Homo sapiens: one gene and its partners. The protein of the gene in region 2 interacts with the protein of the main gene of each other region in a pairwise test. Each region holds a gene or a part of one and is shown on either strand. Other genes may lie near its edges.

Evidence for each region. The genes of interacting proteins can lie anywhere in the genome.
Region 1: the proteins of LONRF1 (region 2) and LGALS9B interact in binary tests that used the Homo sapiens proteins (3 or more experiments, as listed by UniProt).
Region 3: the proteins of LONRF1 (region 2) and KRT75 interact in binary tests that used the Homo sapiens proteins (3 or more experiments, as listed by UniProt).

What each region holds. Positions count from the first base shown.
Region 1 is NC_000017.11:20,464,526-20,472,097, reverse strand, and holds the start of LGALS9B (galectin-9B), read left to right. Parts: upstream 1-4,558; 5' UTR 4,559-4,627; coding exon 4,628-4,666; intron 4,667-7,572.
Region 2 is NC_000008.11:12,724,527-12,731,551, forward strand, and holds part of LONRF1 (LON peptidase N-terminal domain and RING finger protein 1), read right to left. Parts: intron 4,807-7,025; coding exon 4,648-4,806; intron 4,538-4,647; coding exon 4,375-4,537; intron 2,779-4,374; exon of another isoform or gene 2,706-2,778; intron 1,354-2,705; coding exon 1,201-1,353; intron 1-1,200.
Region 3 is NC_000012.12:52,424,358-52,431,382, forward strand, and holds part of KRT75 (keratin, type II cytoskeletal 75), read right to left. Parts: intron 6,349-7,025; coding exon 6,184-6,348; intron 4,387-6,183; coding exon 4,261-4,386; intron 4,120-4,260; coding exon 3,899-4,119; intron 2,495-3,898; coding exon 2,460-2,494; intron 399-2,459; coding exon 160-398; 3' UTR 1-159.

The DNA.
Region 1 (7,572 bases), on a different chromosome or scaffold from region 2:
GATCACCTGAGGTCAGAAGTTCGAGATCAACCTGGCCAATATGGTGAAAGCTTGTCTGTACTAAAAATACAAAAAATTAGCCGGGTGTGGTGGTGGGTGCCTGTAATCCCAGCTACTCAGGAGGCTGAGGCAGGAGAATCCTTGAACCCTGGAGGGGGATCTTGCAGTGAGCTGAGATGGCACCATTGCACTCCAGCCTGGGCGACAGAGACAGACTCTGTCTCAAAAAAAAAAAAAAAAAAATCTCTGTGCACTTCCTCCTTGAAGCCATGTAGCCCAGCTGTATATCCATCTTACCCTTTGGAATATGAGATGCTTAAGGCTGGGACTATGTCCAATTCTCTCTGTACCCCAGTGCCCAGAGGAGTCCAGCACTTACTTATTGTCTGCGGCAGGCATTGAATTTTCCAAATATTCCTGGTCCCAGGTGCTCTTTCAACCTCTTGCTGCCTCCTGTCTGGAGGTGAGGTCTCTTTCCCCTCCCCTTGAGCCTGGGTGGTGCTCATGTGATTGCCTCAACAAATAGAATGTGGTGGAAATGGCACTGGATGGCTTCTGAGGCTAGGTTATAAAAGGGATGTAAGTTCCACCTGGCTCTCACTGGGAATGCTCACCCGTGGACTCCAGCCACCATATTGTGGGGAAGCCCAAGCCATGTGGAAAAGCCACTTGCAGGTGTTCTAGTCAATGGCCTCAGCTAAGATCTTAGCCAAGAGCCAATATTAAGTGGTAGACCTGTGGTATTAAGAACATTCATGCTGTTATACAATTATCACTACCATCCATCCGCAAAACTCTTTTCATCTTGTAAAACCAGAACTCTATGCCTATTAAATGATAAGTCTTCATTCCCCCTCCTACCAGCCCCTAACCACCATTCTACTTTCTTTTGTTGATTCTGGCCACTCTAGGTATCTCAGACAAGTGAAATCATACAGTGCTTTTTCTTTTTCTTTTTTTTTTTTTTTGAGACAGAGTCTCATTTTGTTGCCCAGGCTGGAGTGCAGTGGTGCGACCTCAGCTCACTGCAACCTCTGCCTCCCAGGTTCAAGCGATTCTCCTGCTTCAGCCTCCCGAGTAGCTGGGACTACAGGCACTCATCACCGCACCTGGCTACTGTTTGTAATTTTAATAGAGACGGGATTTCACCATGTTGGCCAGGCTGGTCTTGAACTCCTGACCTCAGGTGATTTTCCCACCTTGGCCTCCCAAAGTGCTGGGATTACAGGTGTGAGCCACCGCACCCGGCCTACAGTGCTTGTTCTTTTATGGCTGTTTTATTTCACTTAATGTTCTCAAGGACCATCCATGTTGTGGCATATGCCAGAATTTCCTTCCTTTTTAGGGCTGAATTGTATGTCTGGCCCACATTTTGCTGACCACTCATCCGTTGATGGACACGTGATGCTTTCACCTCTTGGCTTTTGTGAATGATGCTGCTACAAACGTGGGTGTTCACATGTCTCTTTGAGTTCCTGCTTTTGGTTATTTGGGGGATATACCCAGAAGTGGAATTGCTGGATCATATAGTAATTCTATGATGAGGTTTTTGAGGAACAGCCACGCTGTTTTCACAGGGTTCCAGTTTACTCACATTCTGGCCAACAGTTGTTATTTTCTGGATTTTTTTTTTAATCATAGGCATCCTAATGAGTGTGAGGTGGCAGACTCCCTCAGTCTCTAGGGCAGAGAAGAGAGAGCCTCTGAGAAGGGTCTGTGACTTTGAACACTAGAGCTCTGAGCAGGAACATTCCCGAGGGCTGCTTCTAGTCTCCTGAAGACCAGAGCTAACCACTGGGAATGGATTGTGGTGACTGAAGGGTGCCGAAGTCAGAACTCTCAGTGGCCTGGCACTGTGCCTCGAAGTGCCTCCCTACTGTGTTGATTAGTCTAAAAACATGTCAGCCTTTGGGTATGACCTTACTGGGGCCCCTCCAGACAGGGCATGGAGCAGAGGGCCCTCCTTTATGGGCTGGACTCACTAGTGAAGCTGCTTAACTGTGACTCACCTCCAAGGCTCAAGGTGATGCTAAGGTGCTAAACTGCTGGAACTCTTAGCTGTGCCTGTGTCTCCTTGGGCTCTGGGAGATTTTTTCTTTTAGCAGTATTTTATGGCGATATTGTCTAGGTAGAATAAAATGTACAGATCCTGGTTTTCTGTTTGAGTTTTGTTTTGTTTTGTTTTGAGACAGGGTCTTGCTCTGTCACTCAACCTGCAATGCAGTGGCACGATCATAGCTCACTGTGGCCTCAGCCTCCCAGGCTCAAGCAATACTCCTGCCTCAGCCTCCCTGTAGCTGGGACTACAGGCATGCACCACCATGCCTCACTAATTTTTTTGATTTTTAGTACACAGAAGGTCTTGCTATGCCGCCCAGGCTTGTCTCAAACTCCCGGACTCAAGCAATTCTCCTGCCTCAGTCTCCCAAAGTGCTGAATTACAGGTGTCAGCTGCTGCACCCAGCCTCAGCCTGTTGTTAATGGATGTAAACACCTGTGGGACCACCACCCAGAACCAGATCCAGAACATTTCCAGCCTCTCGAAGACTCCTTCGTGCCCCTCCCAGTCAGTGACTCCCAAGGGTAACGCCACTCTGGCCTGTTGTTCAACTTGACTCGAATGGAATTCTCACAGCATGTGTCTGTTTGGATCTGGCTTCTTCCGCTCAGTTGCAAGGCTCATTGACGTTTCCTGTGGCCTAGCTCCTTTTTATTGCTGAGGGCCACCCTGTGGTGTGAAAACCACAATTCATTTCTCCCTTCTTCTGTTGGTGACTATTTGCATTGTTACCAGCCTGGGGCTATGACGAGTAAAGCTTTTAAAAACAGACAAATATGTTTTCCTTTCTCTTGGGTAATTTTTCAGAAGTAGAAAAGCCAGCAACTTTGAAGTAGATATTTGACTATATTACAACTCACCAAGCAGTTTTTCTTTCTTTTTATTTTTTTTATTTTTTGAGACAGAGTCTTGCTCTGTTACCTAGGCTGGAGTGCAGTGGCGTGATGAGGGTTCACTGCAGCCTCGGCCTCCTGGGCTCAAGTGAGCCTCCCACCTCAGCCTCCCACATAGCTGGGACCACAGGTGTGCACCACCACACCTGGCTAATTTGCCTTTTAAATTATATGTAGAGACAGGGTCTTCCTATCTTGACCAGGCTGGTCTCAACTTCTTGGACTCAAGTGATCCTCCCGCTTCAGCCTCCCAAAGGGCTGGGATTACAGGCATGAGCCACCACGCCCTGCCCATTTTTCTAAGTTGGATTATTTTACACTCAAGTCTGCTATGAATGATAGTTCCAGTTGTTCCATATCCCAATCAATTGGTGATTGCTACAAATGACGTGACGTGATGAAAATATTCCTGGTGTTCGAGAGGATTGCAAAGAATTTCCCTTCTTTTCTCTCCTTTCTGCTCCCCTTGTACTGTCTACTCCTTAACTTGGTCAAATTCTACTTGATCCAGAACATAATGGGATGGTGAGTGCAGACGACACACACGGCCTCAGTCTATGGGAACATCTCAAAGGAGTTCGTCTGCAAATTCTAGTGCATCTAGGCAGAACACAGGAAGGAAGAGAGGTGCAGACTCACGTATGGCCTGGGGCACCTGCCATCCCCTCGAGCCTGTATGGTCCTTACCCGCCCATCCCCAGCTTGAGTTCTGGGCCTTCTCGCCAGCACATCGTTGGGACCTGGTCAACTTCAGGTAAGTTTATTTCATGGCTCCCTCTCCCCTCTGCAGCCTATCCTGTTATTCTCTGTTTCAGCCAATTATTTCCCCTAACTAGGTGCTGAAGCCAATTAAAGGCAGTTCATGCCATATGTTCCTTCCCACTCCCATGTCACTTGAAATGTTCTATTATGTCCAAGACTTCTCTCCCCATCCTAAAGCTCACAAAATAAGGATGGAGAAGAGAAGAAAGAGAGATTCACTGAGGGGGAGGATCAGAAGCTCCTGGGCACCCCATACTCTAGAATAAAAATCTTCATTATAGTGTTTTTCATGCAAAATATTCCCTTCTACATAATTATGTTTTAACATGAAGAATAGAAATTTAAAGAGGAGAAATACTTCTTGAAGATTCTGAGAATCTTCATATAGCTCAGGCTGCCACGAATTAGCTGTGTGACCTGGGGCATGTCCCTCAGACTCTGAGCCTCAGCTTCTCTATATGTAAAATGGGTTGAAGCCGCCCTTCCCCACAAGCACCCTGTGCACAGGCAATGCCCAGCCCCATTATTTTCTGGAACCAGTGGCCAAGCATGCTTAGGACACCCAGCCACATACTTCTGGGCAGTGTCATCTGGCAACTCACTGTCATGTCAGTGTGGTCAAGCATTGTAGACCTCTATGAACCAAATATGCTTCAGGCTGGGGTTGAGCACAGGAGAGGGAGGAGGGAAAGGTCACTGGGGCTGGGAGTGCCTACTTCCCTCTATGAGTGTCACCCCAGTTCACCCAACACCCTACCTTTCTCTCTCTGGACCCACTTCCTCTTGCTGCCGGCTCCTCCCCATTGAATAACAGCCAAGTTGCTTTGGTTTCTATTACTTTGTTAAGTCATTCCTTCTGCAAAGGACTGCCTGGCAGGTGTGAAAGGCAGCGGTGGCCACAGAGGCGGTGGAGATGGCCTTCAGCGGTTCCCAGGCTCCCTATCTGAGCCCAGTGAGTTCCAGGGCCGTGGGCACAGGGCTGCCTCAGCCAGGGGGACACAGTTATGGGGCTCTGAGGAAGCAACTCCTGGGTGGCAGGAGACAGGGGTGGGGGCATCCCAAAGAGAACACAAGCAGGGCAGAAATGTCAGTGGGGGTCGTCCTGGCACAGCTGTGCCATGCTGAGCTCACTCATGCCTGGAGGGATGCTCCTCCCATGAATCATGGGTTTGACAGTGTTGGCTGAGCTGTCGTGTCCTGTCCTGTGCGCTCAGGGGAAGAGGTGTAGAGTGGGATGGTTTGTGTAAAGAGGAAGCAAGCATGCTTCTGGGACAGTAAGGATGCTACCCGGCATGGTAGTTAAGGGTGCGTACTGTGGAGTTGGCCTCCCTGGGTCCAGCTATTTACTGGCTGGTGGTCTCTGGGCCTCAGTTTCCATATCTGTGAAGTGGGAATAATACTTGAGCCCCCCACTCCCAGGGTTGGGATATGGATTAAGGAAGTAGTGTATCTAGAGTGTTTGAACAGTGCCTGACACACTGTAGGTGCTTTGGGAGTGTTTCATGTTATTGGGAGTCTGGGGGCAGCAGGGAAGGCCTCCCGAGGAGGTGTCTGTGCTCTGAAGGGTGAGGCGGAGTTAACCAGGCATAGGCATGTCAGGGCATCTGTAGACGGACAGTCTCAGAGGTGACGGAGGCAGGGACTGTCCCTGCAGTGTGGGGTCAGAGGGCTGCAGGTGCCTTGCTGAAACTCTGTGAGGTTTATGAGTCCCCTTCATTCACGGAAAATCCAAGGTTCAGGGAGGCAAAGGCCAGTTGCCAAATGCCCCCAGATGGGAGTGGCAGCCCCAGGAGCCCAGGAGCCTTCAGGGGTGACTGTGTCCTGGGCTGGGTCCTGTCACAGGATCTCACCCTGCCTTGGCAAAGAGCTTCCCGAGGGGCTGGAGTGGGTGGGCTGATGGGCCCTTCCTGAGTGGGGAGACAGAATGGGGAGGGTGGGCAGAGGCAGGGTGCTGAGGGCAGGGAAGCTGCCAGGGGCCACCTCAGCAGAGGCCAGGGTCGGGCTTGGGTGCCCTCTGGTGATACTGAGTCCAGAATGAGGCTGCCTATGTTCTGGTCTGCAGAGCTCAGCTCTGCTTTCTAGACTCCAGAGAGGAAGAATGGAGAAAGGAGGCCTGTTTCCTCCTGGCTGTCACCAATGACCCCTCAGCCACCCTATGGAAGCCCCCAAGGTAGAACCTGCATAGAGGGAGTGGGGGAAGCTGGAACGGGCTGCCGGTGTTGGGCGAGCCTTAGAGTCAGCGTATGCCACCTTGAGCATGTCACCCCGTTTCTGGTTTTCTGCCAGAGAGGGGATCCCAGAGCTTCTTCCAGGTTCTGACATATTATTATTCTGGTAACTGGTTTTTACTTTCTAATCTTTGGATTCAGAAGGAAAATCCTCCTATGCACATCAGAGAGTTTGAGAGAGTTAAAGCGGGGCCTTGGAGCTCAGACAAGAAAGACGATCAGTGCAGCCCCCACAGGTGTCCAGAGCTCCCCTCTACCCTACGGGGGCTCCCCTGGGTTGGGACACTTGAGCCTCACTCGGTGACCCATCTGGCAGTCGGAGCCACGCTTTCTCCACATGCCGACAGTGGGGGAAGGTCACGCGGTTCACTGTCCTGCTGAGGAGGGCTGAGTGCCATGAGGGCCTGGCTTGGAAACCTCACTCCCACTTCTTGTCTGGCCTCATCTAGCCCAGCCTCTTTGGAGGGCTGGGGGGAAGCTGGAACCACCTGCTGTGTGGCCCAGGAAGCACTGCGAGAGCCAGGAATAAGGACGTTCCGAGCTTCCTCATGAGAGGAAGCCTGTGTGGTGGTTAGAAGCGTGGGTGCTGGGGTTCAAATCCCAGCTCTGTTGCCGACCAGCTGTGTAGCTTTGGGCAAGTGACTGAACTTTTCTGTGCCTCAGTTTCCTCATCTGTAAAAGTGGCCGGGGTTGCTGTGAGGATAAATGTTCCCGGTCACCCCCAGAGCCCTCATGGACACACATGGATCCAAATGCCACAGCAGCCTTAGCTGGCCAACTTAAAACAACACATTTGTGCTTACAGTGTTGGAGGTCAGAAGGCTAAAATCAAAGTGTCATGAAAGGTGGCCAGCAGGACCGTGGAGCCTCTGAGGCAACAGGGCACTTTGGCTAAGGGCCACGTACTGGCTCCAGCTGGCAGGCAGTCTCGGCCAGCCAGGCTGAGCTCCCTACTCCTGGGGCCAGGCCTTGGTGTCCTCTGGTGATGCTGAGTCCAGAATGAGGCTGCCCACATTCTGGTCCGCAGGGCTCAGCTCTGCTTTGACTTCCAGGTAGGAAGAAGAGGGAAAGTCCCCGGTCTCTGGGCACAACCAGGAACAGAGAGCAAGTTCTGACTCAGCAGAGGGATTGATTTGTTCCATGCAAAGAGCTGCACTGTCAAGGCCGACATGGGCCAGAGGCTCAGCACATGGCATCGCACCCCGTCCTCTCAGAACGCTGCCAGCCAGGGACTCAGCACATGGCATTCCACCCAGTCCTCTCCAGAATGCTGCCAGCCAGGGACTCAGCACACAGCATTGCACCCAGTCCTCTCCAGAACACTGTCGGGTGGTGTTACTGCCCTGCCATTCAGAGGAGGGAAGTGGGGCACAGGCAGGTCAAGTGACTTGGCCAGTGTCAGAATTGCTAGTGTACAGAGCTGGGAGGCGAGCCCAGGCCCATGGGACCACAAATCCAACACAAAAATCCATCCTCCTGCACCCTACGGAGCAAAAGTAGGTCCAGTTGTTTTCCTGGGTTTCCTGGACACACGGATCTAAATTCCACAGCAGCCTTGGCTGGCCAATCTTAAAACAACAAATTTGCTTTCTTAATGATTCTGGAGGGCAGATGTTAAAATCATCGTGTG
Region 2 (7,025 bases):
CTACGTCAAACCCTTCATTCTGGGAAAATGACGGGTGGTTGCTTTTGCTTTCCTGCCCAAATCCTAACTCACACAACACTGCTAACAGAAAGCAGTGATACAGGACAGGATAATAAAAGGCAAGGGTGGTGAAGGTGATGGAAAAGTTATGCTGAATTTTTCTATAAGCTGTTTTGTTATTTAAAATTTCTTATTCAATATTGTTCTTATCAAAGCCCATTTCTGTGATGTTTAATCAGATTCAAGTAATCAGTTAAAACAAATAGATGGCAACTGATAATATGCTAAACAGAATGAATACTAAATTTGGAGATGGCCTAATGTTGGTGTTTCAAGTTCAGGTGAAGGATTCAATTGGGATTCAGACAAATGTAGACCAACCCTTGAAAACGGGAATGAGGCAGTGTGCATTACAATGAGATCTATTATCTCTCCATCTTCACATATTTACTGACAGCCATTCCTTTGTAAAATCTATCACCTTCTGATCAAAAACATTTAGTTCAATTCAAAATGCTACGATGCCTAAAACGTAGTGCTTTAGTAAGTCTATGATCAGATTTTCCAGGAGCCAGACCCTTCTTTTATGCCTCCTGCAGTTTTGCTTGCACAGAAAGTGCCAGATACACATTCATTAGACTAAGCTTAAGTGTAAACCCTAAGTACCTGCAAGACTAAAAGAATAATAGTTTCATGAGAAGCGAGGTATTAAACATGAAGAGACAAAAATGAATTGAAGTGGTTGGGTCAAATGTTGGGAGATACAAAGAAAGGTGAGAAAAGATGTTTCAAATGTATAGAAAATGGTAAGTCTCTCTGCTGTCAAAGAATAACAGCAACAGGCGATGGGCTCAAAGGCATGGTTAGTTGTCCCACAGTCACAGTTTCTAGATAGTAACATCCCGTTTTTAATTCCTTACCCACTCCTAAAAATCCTCTTAAGGACTTGCTCCCTTTCTGGCACTCTCTCCTACAGGCATCTCAGCTGACACGTATTTCCAGCCTCTATCTGTACGGAATGTAGTGGAGACCACTGCTCTAGAGAACTCATGATTGCAAAGATGAGGTGGGGCTGGTGCGGGGGAGGGGACAGTCAAAGAAAAAGTAGTGCAGAAAGGACAATGAGAAAACAAATGTAGAAGTGTGCAAATTTGGGTTTATAAAAAAGTGACTTTTGGAAGAACAGAAAAGCCACCATACCTGAAGGTTTTCCTCCCTCTCGGGCATTGATCCGAAATGCTGAAGAATTTGGCTTCGAAATCTGTCTCTTAAATTCTGAAACCAGCTGCAGGCTTGAGAGTAAACCAAATCATGAAGCTCTCTGAGATTCTTAATCTCATCTTCATTCTCAACCTAGAAATACAATAGTCAGTAAGACTTCTGTGTCTAATCCCCCGTCCATATGCCATATGCCAACCGACACAAATGGAAAAAGGGATCAGAAGAACAGGGCAATACCTGTTTCAGTGCTGACGTCCCAGAGAGTATTATTCCTATGCTTTAATACACATTTCTGTCTCATATAGGGCTGACCAGACTAAAGAAAGACAACAAGGCCTGACCTATGCCTAACCTTGCTGACTTAGCAGTGCAATATTGCAGAACCCTACAACAGCCCTCAAGTGGGAAGAGTAAGATTGAGAGTGAGTTCTGGTTCAGAGGTCTAATTTGGAATTCCATTTGTCTTTATGGATCAATGGTTTTTGAAAGCAGTGGAACAAAAAAGTGGATGATAGTTGCTACAAAAAAAGAAAAGATAAGTAGTTAGGGTGTAGATGACATGACAGAAAGTAGTAACAGGAGGAGTCCAGGCACAGTTACATCTTTTACTAGGGAACTGGGTCAAAACACAAAAACAAACAAAAAGCTACAACAAATAAGTTAGCATATAAAGCCAGTATGTCAGAGAGTCAATTACACAATGATGAGCTTCTGCTGGCAAGGCCCAAGGCTATGGCTACCTCTGGAACCCCTCAGTGTATTCTTTAGACTACTGGGTCACCAAACTGCAAATGTAAAATTAATTGCATCAGGCTTCCAGCCTGAGATAGAAGAGTAGTCTCAGAGAACACAGGTGGGAAGATCTAAGTTTAACTCATCCATCTTATACTGATTTCTTTAATGCACACTTACATCCCACTTGCTACTTGCCAGGTCGTGCTCTGTCTCATATGCACAAACTCATCTGAAAAAATACCAGGCCTGACTCAGCCTTTCATACTTCAAGGATGACTCATTTAAAAACAACAAAGGGACTCTGAAAACATTTCGAAATATAAAAATAAGACTACAGCACACCAGAGACAAAAAAGCAAACTTTTTACTTTTGAAAGATTTGAAATGAAAACTAAAGTTTAAAGAGCATCTGTTTTTTGCATAACAATGTGAATGTACTTAATGCCACTGTGTGCACTCAAAGATGGTTAAAATGGTAAATTCTATGTATATTTTACCACAATAAAAATAAACTTTTAAAAAAGGTAGAGGAGCCACACAATTGAAGAATTTTGGTCCTGAAATGACTATACATGATTCAGGCCCCTGCTAACATACATTGATAGGAGCAAGAAACAAACTTATGCCTTGTTAAATCTTTTTTTTTTTTTTTTTTAAAGCATCTGCTCTGCACCCTCACAAAATTCAAGAAAACAAATGACAGGCTCTGGTAAACAAGGAATGATAACAATTATAAGCGTCAGTGATGAAAAACGGAGCTGGCCAAAAAGCAGGCAGAGACGCTTTTAAAGTCTCTGCCTGCTTTTTGGCCAGCTCCATTTTAAAAGCAAGCTTTTAAAGTCAAGGAACTTTACTGTGATAATTTTAACAGAACTTAAAATTTCATTAGAAGTCACAGAAAACAGAATTATTATAAGAAGAGGAAAATTTGCCATATAAAACAAATTTGAGAAGGTTTTCCAGAATGGACAAGAAAATCATTATATAGATGAAGACATGATGAGAAAAGATTACTAGACATTCCGAGGACCAAAGAGGACTCGTTTATAAATATCATATCTGTAATACTTTTAGAATGTGATTCTATTGCCTACATGTTTGTAAGTATTAATACATATAGTCATGTAATTTAGCCATATACTCAAGTGATTTTGTCATCAAATCCAATAAGTGAAGACATAAATTTACACAAAACTGAAATATGGTTATTAACTTTACAAAGAAGAACCTTTAGCAAGTGATTCCATTAACCAAGTATGCCTAAGGCACAGATTCTATCAATCAACTCAAAATTTCAACTCACACAATACTTTCGGCCAACTGCACAAGACAAAGTACCCCCATAGCATTTTTATAATAAGATAGGACTGCCAACGTCAGACTAATCAGGTTTATCAACAGAGAGCCAAATGGCATAGTGATAAAGCTCAAAGTCTGAGTCAGACAGTTTGCTTTAATCATTTTTGTTACATTATCTATAGGCTCTCAGGCAAATTAATTAACACCTCTGAATTGTACTTTCCTCATCTACTATTTCATAGAGTTGTGAAAATTCTATGAGTTAATGTTTGTGAAAATACCTAATGCCAATATCCAATAAATGCTGACGAAATGAAGGGCCTAAACAGATCAATGAATAAGAGAAGGGATAAGATCTATGTTTTTATAATGCCTTTCCAAAAGAAATTGCCTTCAATTTGGTATTTGTAGCATCATAAGTCACTTTTCCGGTTCCTAAACTAACTGCAGTAGGTAAACTGGGTATTGCAAACATCAAAAGGGCCACATTAACCCTATTCTAGAAAGACATCACAAAAACCCTACCCTGTTAAGATATCACCAACATGTACACTGGCAGTGCTTTCTATGTCTGCCCCAGGGTCTTCACACAGCATTCAACTCTATTTTATCATTAAGGTTATCTTAGGCACAAGAACAATCTTAATATATAAAACAATTCTTATAAGATTTGATGTGTTTACATTTACATCAAATTTCAATCTACTAATTCCATCGGCTTCAACTACTAATACATTCAATAAAACAGGGCAGAAATGTAAACCTTTCAAAACTTAGATGGGTTGGAAGTTCAACTTATTCAACCACTATTGTTAAGTACCTATCACGTGTATACACACATGCACATGTGTACATATACACATACATTCTAGGCACTGGGCTGGTTGTTAAGCCTGCAGAAATAAAGAGAATCTATGTTCTAGTCTTCCAAGTTCTCTTAGAATGTGCAACAGTTTCAGAGCAAGATACGAAAAAGGTAACTTGGAGCACATTCTCATCACAGTGGTAAGGCTGTCTGATAAGAACTGGTTCATGCACCTAGAAAATAGCCTGCATGCCTGTACCAATCCCTGGAACAGGATATACGAAAGTATGCTGGCAAAGCACATTTTAAAATACCTTAACATCTTCCAGATATTCAATGTCGGCAGTGCAATATCCATCTTTCATTCCTCTTTTTAAAACCCTAAACCGCTTTCCTCCAACTGTATCAACCACAGACCTTCCGTCCGGTAAGAAATGCACGTTTCTAATTTGTAACATACAACCATAATCTGCAAAACTAAAAGAAAACCTTGATTAGTAACAAAGTTGAAACATAAACATGCAAGTTCTCATCCATATTGAGAGGTCTAACATAAATACAAATATTTAGGTTCACAAAAAGCATACCTATTTTGTGTATCACTGACACACATGCCAAACTGTTTGGTTCCAGTCTGTATACTTCTTCGAATCATCAATCTGTATCTTGGCTCAAATACATGGAGAGGGCAAGGCACAGTGGGGTAGGCCATAGTGCAAACAAATATTGGAACATTCTTGGTCAAGCTAAGGGAAAAACAGTTTAATTATTAGAATTCATACAAGAAAAATATTACCGAACACATACAAAAAATGAGTGAGGTTTATAACAGTAATGAACTAATGTAAAGCAAAAAAAGAATTAGTTCTAAATAAGGTGGTTTTTATTCTTGGCAAGAACAAGAATCAGCACCCCGTTCACTAAGCTCACACTGATGAAATATTAATACTGAAAATCTGCTGTGATCCTCTTATTTATAAGAGTAAACTGAATTTTAAGACACCAGATTATCTTACAGAGCTAAGTATGTTTATGAATCAAGAGAATTTATTATAAGTAATATTTTATATTAAAATCTGTTTTAAATATTTATAACATGACAATAAATACCTTTTATCCCAAACACTCATAGTTACTCTTAGATAACAAGAAAAAGTGAACTCCCACAACAAAGAGCAAATACTTAAAAATTCTCAGCCATTATTTTCAAACGCAAGGATAAGAAAACATATTTTGATGAGATAACATTTTTTCCAAGTAATTAAAATGATATAACATTTTTCATTGCCAGATTGGTAGAAAGAAAGAGAAGGATAAAGGCAATGCCCAGTTCTGTCTGAGGTATGGGAAAAATGGCAGCATGGGGGCACTCTGAAACAGCACAGGCACGCTAAAGAACATGGCTACAGACAGCAGAAACCTTACGTTGTTGGCAGGAAATGTTCATGTTCTTGGAACCAACCAGCTTATTTTCAGACATAAGCAGGCAAGTGCTATATGAATGTTCACTGTAGCAATGTGGATAGTAACCAAATTGTAGAATCATAAAGAGGAGACTAGTAAGATCAATTATGGTACATCCATAAAACGGAATACTATGTTTCCATTAAAAGATGATGTGTATGAACTGAATTAGAAGAAATGCTTATATTAATGAGAGGAGCAGGTTTTAGATACTGATCATGAATAACATGATCCCATCTTTGTTTAAAGCCTATTTATACATACTACATTCAAGTTTGGAAATATGTATGCCAAAATGCCAATAGTTGATTCCCTTTGAGTTGCAGATTATGGCTTTTTTTAAAAGCTCATTTGTATTTTTGAGTTTTTTTCAAAATGACCATCAATTACTTATATAAACATAAGGTGAAACATGTTTAAAATATGTGTTTTAAGAAACAGCCCCATTAGTAAGCAGCTGGACACCCTGTCGCTTCTCTTCTCTCCAATGCGCAGCTCTCTGTGTGTCTCCCTCCTCTGTCCTTTGAGTCTACCACTCTTCCGTGGGCTGGCTGGTTGTGTCACCATGTTTAAATTTTCAAAAGCAGAAATGCAGTTTTCTTAAATCTAGATGCTTCAGCACTGATCAGAAAGGTTCATAATTGTCATATCATTTTATAAACCACACAATAAAATATCAATTCTGTGAGAAGACAAATCAATATCTATTTCTATAAAGAGTGGAAATCTTTCTTCTGTGGAAGGCACCTGGCTCACTGAAGACATCTGATGGGCACATGTTGATAAAGGAGTCTACAAGCACAGCTTTTCTTAGAAAGTGACATACAAAATGTTCAATTTATATTTTGAAAATCAATGGAAACAAAAAGTTGTTAAATAAAACAGCATATACAAATTATAATTTTGTTTTTTAGTGTGTTCAATTAAAAGAGAGTAAAAGAAATAAAGAAATTAAAAACCCGTTAATAAAATTTAAAGAGACCCAAGTGACTGCACAAGAGGGAAAGACATTTAGGGAAAAGAAAGGGAGAAAAACGGGAAAGAAAAACAGAAAAGGGACAACAAGCAATGCCTGGCCCTGCCTACCCAGCTCCATCAGCTGCTGTGTTCTTTGCAGAGTGGCCTGCCTTACCGAATCCCAAAGTTGCCTCCGAGATTTTCACCCTCCCGACACCAACTCAGTTGTGCTCCCAGTCAGTATCTTCATTAATTGAGGATTTGGCCCTGAACACCCCTCTTCCAATTTCAATCTCAGATCTCAAAGTTTGGAAAGCCCCCTTCCGGGCCTCCATGTGACAGAAAATCCCCTGCTAATCTAGGCTACTGACCCTCAACCTTCCTCTTGCCCTACCACGACACATGAGAGCCGCCATCACCACCAATGTCACTGTCACCAGCGCCCCCTCTCTATTTCCCATTCCACTGCCTGATGGCACTGTAGGAAATTCCTCCCCCGCCCAAAATACTGCTTCAGCCCACAGAGCTGAGTCAATAACTCCCT
Region 3 (7,025 bases), on a different chromosome or scaffold from region 2:
GAGAGGCTGGCTTAGGCCTGGGAATGGGTATAGCCAGTACTCCAGGCTCCCAGCAGCACAGGTGCACCTTACAAGGAGAGAGGAAGGAGGAGGACCCTGGTGTCCAGGTGTGACTGCAAACAGGCCTCAAGGCAGGGTAGAGGGAGCCATGGGGCTCTCTTAGTGCGTGTAGCTCTTCTGGCTGGAGGATGTGGTGGAGACAAACTTGACGCTAGAACCACTGCCCCCTAAGCCCCGGTTGCTGGTGGCACTGAATCCAGAACCTCCCAGGCCTGCACCCAGGCTATGCCCACCACTGGTGGTGAAGGAGTAGCCGCTGCCCCCACCGAGGCCCAGGTTTCCACCTCCAATGCTGCTGCCGCTTCCATAGCCACTGGAAAGAGTAGAGGTGACCACAGCTGCCGGGAAGAGAGGAGGTGTGGTCAGATCAAGTGCAAGCGAGAAGACAGCTGGGAGTGTGAGGGCCTGTGCCCTGGAGTCCTTGGGTGGGGAGGGGGTGGTCTCGTCAGCCAGCAGTTTGCCTCCTTCCAATGTCCCCTGCTTAGTGAGATCACTGCCTGTGTTCCTGAGCTGCAGCTCCAGGCAGCCTCTTAGGCTGGAATGGCTTCCTCCTCCCCTTCCAGAACCTACTGGAGCCCTCTCCTCCTGGAAGCAGCTCCAGTCCACCTGCTTTCCCTTTGATCCTCCTGCTGTGCCGTCTGGGTCTGTCTCCCTGTCTGAGCCTGACTCCAGAGTTTCTCTTCCTTCTGGATGCTTATGGGGGGAGGGGCACACTCCTCTTCCCTCAGCGTCTCCCAGCCCCACACTCAGAATCCCAGGGTGGAGGCTGGAATATTCTTGATGGATCAAGTGACAGATTAACCTGTTGGCCAGTGAACTCTGCCCCCGTTCTCCTCCCAACCTATTCTTCTCCTAATTTATAACTCATCCCCTTACACATTCTAGCACCCTACTTTGGGTCCTGCCGAAGGAAAATCAAATTTTAAAAAAATAGACTCCGTTATAGGATGAATTGTGTCCTTCAAAAACCTATGGTGAAGTGTTAACACCAGTATCCGTGAATGCAACCTTATTTGGAAATGGGATCGTTGCAGGTATAACCAAGTTAAGATAAAGTCTGTAGGGTGGGCCCTGATCTAACATGACTGGTGTCCATACAGAAAGAAGGAAGACATTCATCTGAAGCCACAGACACACAGGGACACGGTCATACAATCACAGAAACAGAGAGTGGAGGGATGCAGCCACAAGCCAAGGAACACCGAGGATGGATGGCCACCGCCAGAGCTAGGAGGAGGCTGGAGGGGGGCTGGGCTGCCCATGCTGCCTCCGTGTTCCAGAACACTATCTGGTTTGGAGAGGGGATAGTGCCACCCTGCATGATATACAGAGCAGGAGGCTGGTCCAGGCTCCAAGTTTCAGAGGGACCAGGGCCCTGCTAACCCTTAATTTCAGCCTCCGGAACTGTGAGACAAGACATTTCTGTTGCTTTAAACCACCTGACTGGTGGTACTTTTTGCAACAGCCCTGGAAAACTAATACAGACAATTAGGTGTTTTCAAGAGAAAAGGAGCTTCAAGGTTATGCTTGAAGGCCTGTCCCCAAAATTAGCTTTGAGGGTCTCTGGCACCACTAGACAAAGACATCAGGGAGGAAGGACACCTGGGTGGTTCAGAGGGCTCTGCCTTCTAGAATCATTGGCTAATATAATGAATTGCCCTTATGAATGCCCATCAAGAAAACCAAACTCAAACTCACTTGTAGAGGGTGAGTTGTAAGAGTCATTTCTGTTGCCCTTGTGATGCCAGCACTGAGCTCTGCGAATGACCACTTCTTCTCTCACCAGCACAGGGCCATGCCAGCTTGTTAATACCTCTCCTGTTTTAGAGCTACTGTAGCCAACTGCCATATTTTATGCTGCCCTTACTGCCTTGAAAACCCTTGGCATCCTTCTGCAGTTATACTCGGCAGAGTTGAGCCAAGCAGTGGAGCTTCTTCTCAAACTGTTTAGGAGAGAAGCTGCCTAGTTGGCAATGCTCTTGTCCACAGCATGAAGGCTCCCTTCAAAGGTCCAAGCCAGACCAGGAATTTTCATAAATCCCGTCTACATCAAGTGCTCACCTCTGTGCTAGGCTTGCAGCCCCAACAAAAAGGCAGGGAATTCTGGGAGGTAGGAGATGTGGCCAGGATCTTTTAAACCCACTCAGAACAATGACATCAAACCTCTCATCACCCCTTCTGTGACACCCTCACTCTCAAAGAGGAAAGAACTGTGACATTAAAGACTCCTAATATGGCTTGCTTTTTAAGGGACCCAAAACCTCAAACCTTCTCCAAATGAACGCTGTCTGTGAGATCCCGTCTAACCCGTCATATCTTCACCCTCTGGCAAGCCCACCACATCCCCATCCCCTCTACCACACACACTCCAAATGGCCCAAGAAGTATGTCATACTCACAAATGTTAACTGGAGAAACTCCCTCTCCACTCAACCTGATTGGGAAGAGCAGGGAGAAGGAAGGTTACCAATGTGGCCAGCAGCTTAAGGGCCTTTGCAATGACACTTTTGTAATTGTTGACAAAGCATTTAAACATACTTTATTATTTTTATTGCAGAAGTAATGCAGGTTGAAATTATTTGAGAACTAGTAGTATTAAAGATAATATTAATAATCTAATGAATAAAATAAGGTGGAGTTTGAGGTTCACAGGAGCAAAATCTATAATCTCAGAAATACAATTTTTGGTTTAAACTAGTTAGATGCCTTAAGGAAATTAAAAGTAATCATATACTGGCATCAACTGGAAAGAAGGGCCTGTCCTATAATAAGATTTGTCTCTCAACAAGGGACCATTGTCATGCACTGAGCCAGGGCTGAGCTTATTGTATATAGGTGTGGAGAGGCGTCTGAGTCATAAAAATAACAATAGTAATATCAGTTTATTATTATCTTAGCAACCAAGTAACTTTGCTTTAGCATCTTCAGGACAGAACTGGCATTCATTCATAAACACATACTGAGAAACTTAACAAGAGGTAACAGCTGTTGATTACCTGTTACTTATATCACACCACTTAGTTCTCTCAACAACCCCATGAGGTAGGTATTATTTGCTCACTTTTATAGAGGGAGAAATGGAAGCTCAGACAAGTTAACTAACTTGCCCATAGTCGCAAAGCTGGACTTGAAGACAGATTCATCTGACACCAAAGCCTATGTCTTTGGCCATGAAACTGAATGATAGCTAACATTTATCGAACACGCTGTGTACCATGCATTGTTCTAAGAGCTTTGTGTGTATTCCCTTATTTTAACCCTTTTAATAATGTGAGAGTTTAGAACTATTGTTATTCACATTTTATTGGATGAGAACACTGAGAGGTGGAGAGGTTAAGTATCTGCTCTTGGCTACACAGCTCCTAACTGGCAGAGCACAAAGCTCCCATGAAGCTTTGCGGATCATGTAATCTGACCTTTTCATTTTATCATTGAAGAAATTGAGGGCCAGAGAAGGGAGACTGACTTTCCCAAGGTTATGTAGCTACTTAGTGTTAGATCTGTAAGCCCAAATCCTAGGACTGTTTGTTCTCAGCCCATGGCCTTTTAGACCACATTTCGAGAGCTGCCATGTAACCAAATGTCTCCTTTGGTAGAATTCAGTTACTTAGACCTGATCAGGTTTTAGGTTTCTATGGGGATGCTAACTGTAGTTGCACCTCAAATGATTTACTAGCCTGGAAGGAAATTAAAATTATTTTTTTGCCATAGCCCAATTCTGAACTGCATTTTCTTCCAGGAGAAGAAGGGGCTGCAACAGCCCGAGCCCCTAGGAATGCCCAGGAAGCTGAGGTGAGCTCAACTTGCTTTGAGGATGAAGTTGGTGCATCTGCCTCACCTGCACTCCTCGCCTTCCAGCAGCTTGCGGTAGGTGGCGATCTCCACGTCCAGGGCCAGCTTGATGTTCATCAGCTCCTGGTACTCACGCAGGAGCCGAGCCATGTCCTGCTTGGCCTTCTGCAGGGCCTCCTCAAGGTCCACCAGCTTGGCCCGTGCATCCTTGAGAGCCAGTTCTCCCCGCTGCTCTGCATCAGCAATGGCCGTTTGCAAGCTGGAACACTGTAAGGACAGGAGGAAGCCATGAGTCCTGCTGACAGCCCATGGAGGTGTGGTGCTTCTTGGGGAGGAGTTCTTAAAGATGGCAGAAAGGCCCAGAAGAAATGAGCATTTGAGGAGCTCTTGGCCCTGCCAAATCTTTACCTGCTTCTTGACGCTGTCAATCTCAGCTCTCAGCCTCTGGATCATGCGGTTCATTTCAGAGATCTCTTGTTTGGTGTTTCGAAGGTCATCCCCATGTCTGCCTGCGGTGACCTGCAGCTCCTCGTACTGAGAGAACCAGAGCAAACCCAGTCACTGAGTCAAATGCCTGGCCCAGGCACTCGCTGTGCACACAGACCCACCCTGGGTGCCACAAGCAGGCTCATTCATTCCTGGTCATTCACTCATTCCCCCTGAAGCTTACAGTTTATTGGGGGACATAGACATTAACTGAATTAGCATATTATCAAATGTATAGTTCCACACTAAGATAAGTGCCCTTAGGAAATGAACAGGGTCCTGGGAGAGTGTAATGAAGGAATCTGACCTAGATTTGGAAGTGGGAAGTGGTGGTCAGAGAAGTCTCTCCAGAGATGGAGATGCTTGAACTGTGGTCTGAAGGATGAGAAGGAGGGACCTAAGTGACCAGTTGTGGGGGAGAACATTCCAGACAAAGGAAACAGCCTGCATGAAGACTCTGGGTCAGGGAAGGAACATGGTGAGTTCTAGGAGTGAGACGGTGATTTGATCAAGGTCCCTGGGTAGTTCCTGGTCACAGAGCGTGCATCCAGACCAACTGTGCCCATGAATTTTGGTAGCCCTCCAAACACCAGTGCTGGGGAAACAGGGAGGAGATATGGGGGAATGGTGTGGGATGGTGCAGAGGCTGTGGAAGGCACAATTTTGAAGACTTTGTAAAAGTATTCCCAATCTCAGGTAGTTCTCAATCTAATGGTGCATATCCAGGACATGTGAATTTAAGAGCAATAATTACACCCTGTCTCCTCCAGCAGACTGAAGTGAAACCTACACCTTTCCCTGACAAAAGGAGATCCCCTGCCAGAGTCAAGATCTGTGGGGTTCTTGAAAGTGCTGAATAGCTCAGGTTCCCGCTTCTAGGTATACATGATTAAATGGAGCAACAACCCAACAACATGAGGAATCGTTTGCTATCGATTTCAACCACTTCACCTTGGGGTTAAGTGCATCATGTTTCCTTTCACCGTCAAGGCGCTGCCTCTGCCCTGTGGAACCCTGGTCCCTGCTACCCACCTTCCTTTCCACCACACTCCTGACCAGAAGGGATGAGGCAACGTATGGAGCAGGGAAAGAGTTGGAACCTGCTCGTAGGTGAGAAGCTGCCCCAAGAGGGGTCTGGATTTGACAGGGAGCTGGTATCATGGGTCAATTGTACCCCGCAAAGCCAAACTTCTTTGCGGCTGTCTGAGCTCTGGGCAGTAGCTGTTTGTGTTTATCCCAGCCTTCCTCTTCCTGACATAAACTCCCTTGCTTGTTCTTGCCTGCCAGCTCCTTGTTCAGCCTTAAACCTCTCCCCACTCCTCAGCAATCTTTTGTCCCTCATGGCTTCCCAACTGTACAAAGCCCCCATGTCTTCCTGGAAGCTTTTTATTCATGCTATCTTTTCCCTTCCATGATTGTCCATTCACTTCATGGCCTCCCAGAGCTTGGGTTCTCTGTTTGCAGTTTATTTATTTGCAACCCTGTAACCCTGATTGGCATACAGCAGGAGCTCAGAAAATATATAGAGAATAAATAAGCCTTTTAGAAACTGCTTCATGACTGTGTCTCGGTTGTCCTGGTGTCTCACCCTGCTCCCACCCAGATCTTGAGGAATGTGGGGCCAGTGGATGTCCTGAGCTCCCAGCATTGGGCTGACCATGTATTAGTGTGTCTGGTTCGGTTTCCACATGCATTTCAAGCTAAGTTGTCATAGCATCAAAGACATGCCTGCTAAGTTGAAATAAACGAATGTGCTCACACGTTTCCTGAGGCTGAGTTAAGTGATAATGTGGAGCCTCAGAGAACACTAACCCTGGAACCTCTCATGGAGGTGTCCATGCTCACCTTGGTCTGGTACCAGGACTCAGCCTCGGCCCGGCTGCGGTTGGCAATGTCCTCGTATTGTGCTTTGACCTCGGCGATGATACTATCCAGGTCCAGGTTGCGGTTGTTGTCCATGGACAGCACCACGGATGTGTCACCGACCTGGGTCTGCAACTGGGACAGCTCCTGCAGGGCAGTAAACTCAGCATCACCAAGGCATAAGATGAAGAATCTTAAATCTTCGTGGTTAACTACCCATCTAGGTCAGGAATCCTTTCCTTGGTATTCCTGGCAGATTCTCCCAGCTATTCCCTAGGTATTCCCATTCATCCCAAAAGATCAGTGTGGTGAAAATCTTTCCCAGCCTTACTTCTCAAGGCTCCCATCTGTGTGCTTTCCCCAGGCATGAGGGTGGGTAAGCATCCTCTGAATTGGAATTACATAGATTTGAATGTGACACGTGTCTGTTCAGTATGCCAACATAAACGGCTTCTTTAAGAGCATTGGGGACATCTGGGACACTGCTTCCCCCTGCACAGTGTGACTCCATCACTTTCTACCTCTCTCTCCCTTTCCACAGACCCAGGTCTCTGCCTTTGGAGGGGTAGCGCCCAGAATGAGGCATCTTCAAAGGGTAGGAAGCCCCCTGACCAATGAGCTGAGGGACAGCTTGCCTTTTTTTTTTTTTAATACTTTTCAGGGAAGGGGAAGGGAGCAGGTATGTGTTGATTCCTTGGGAAATTACCCAGTGTCCTAGAATTTGGGAATCAGTACTCTCTCCTTGTTAGATGTTGTCCTGCCATGGGATAAGGGAGTTCGGGGGAGAAGCATCAGAGCTGGGGTAGTTTAGTATGACAAGGCTC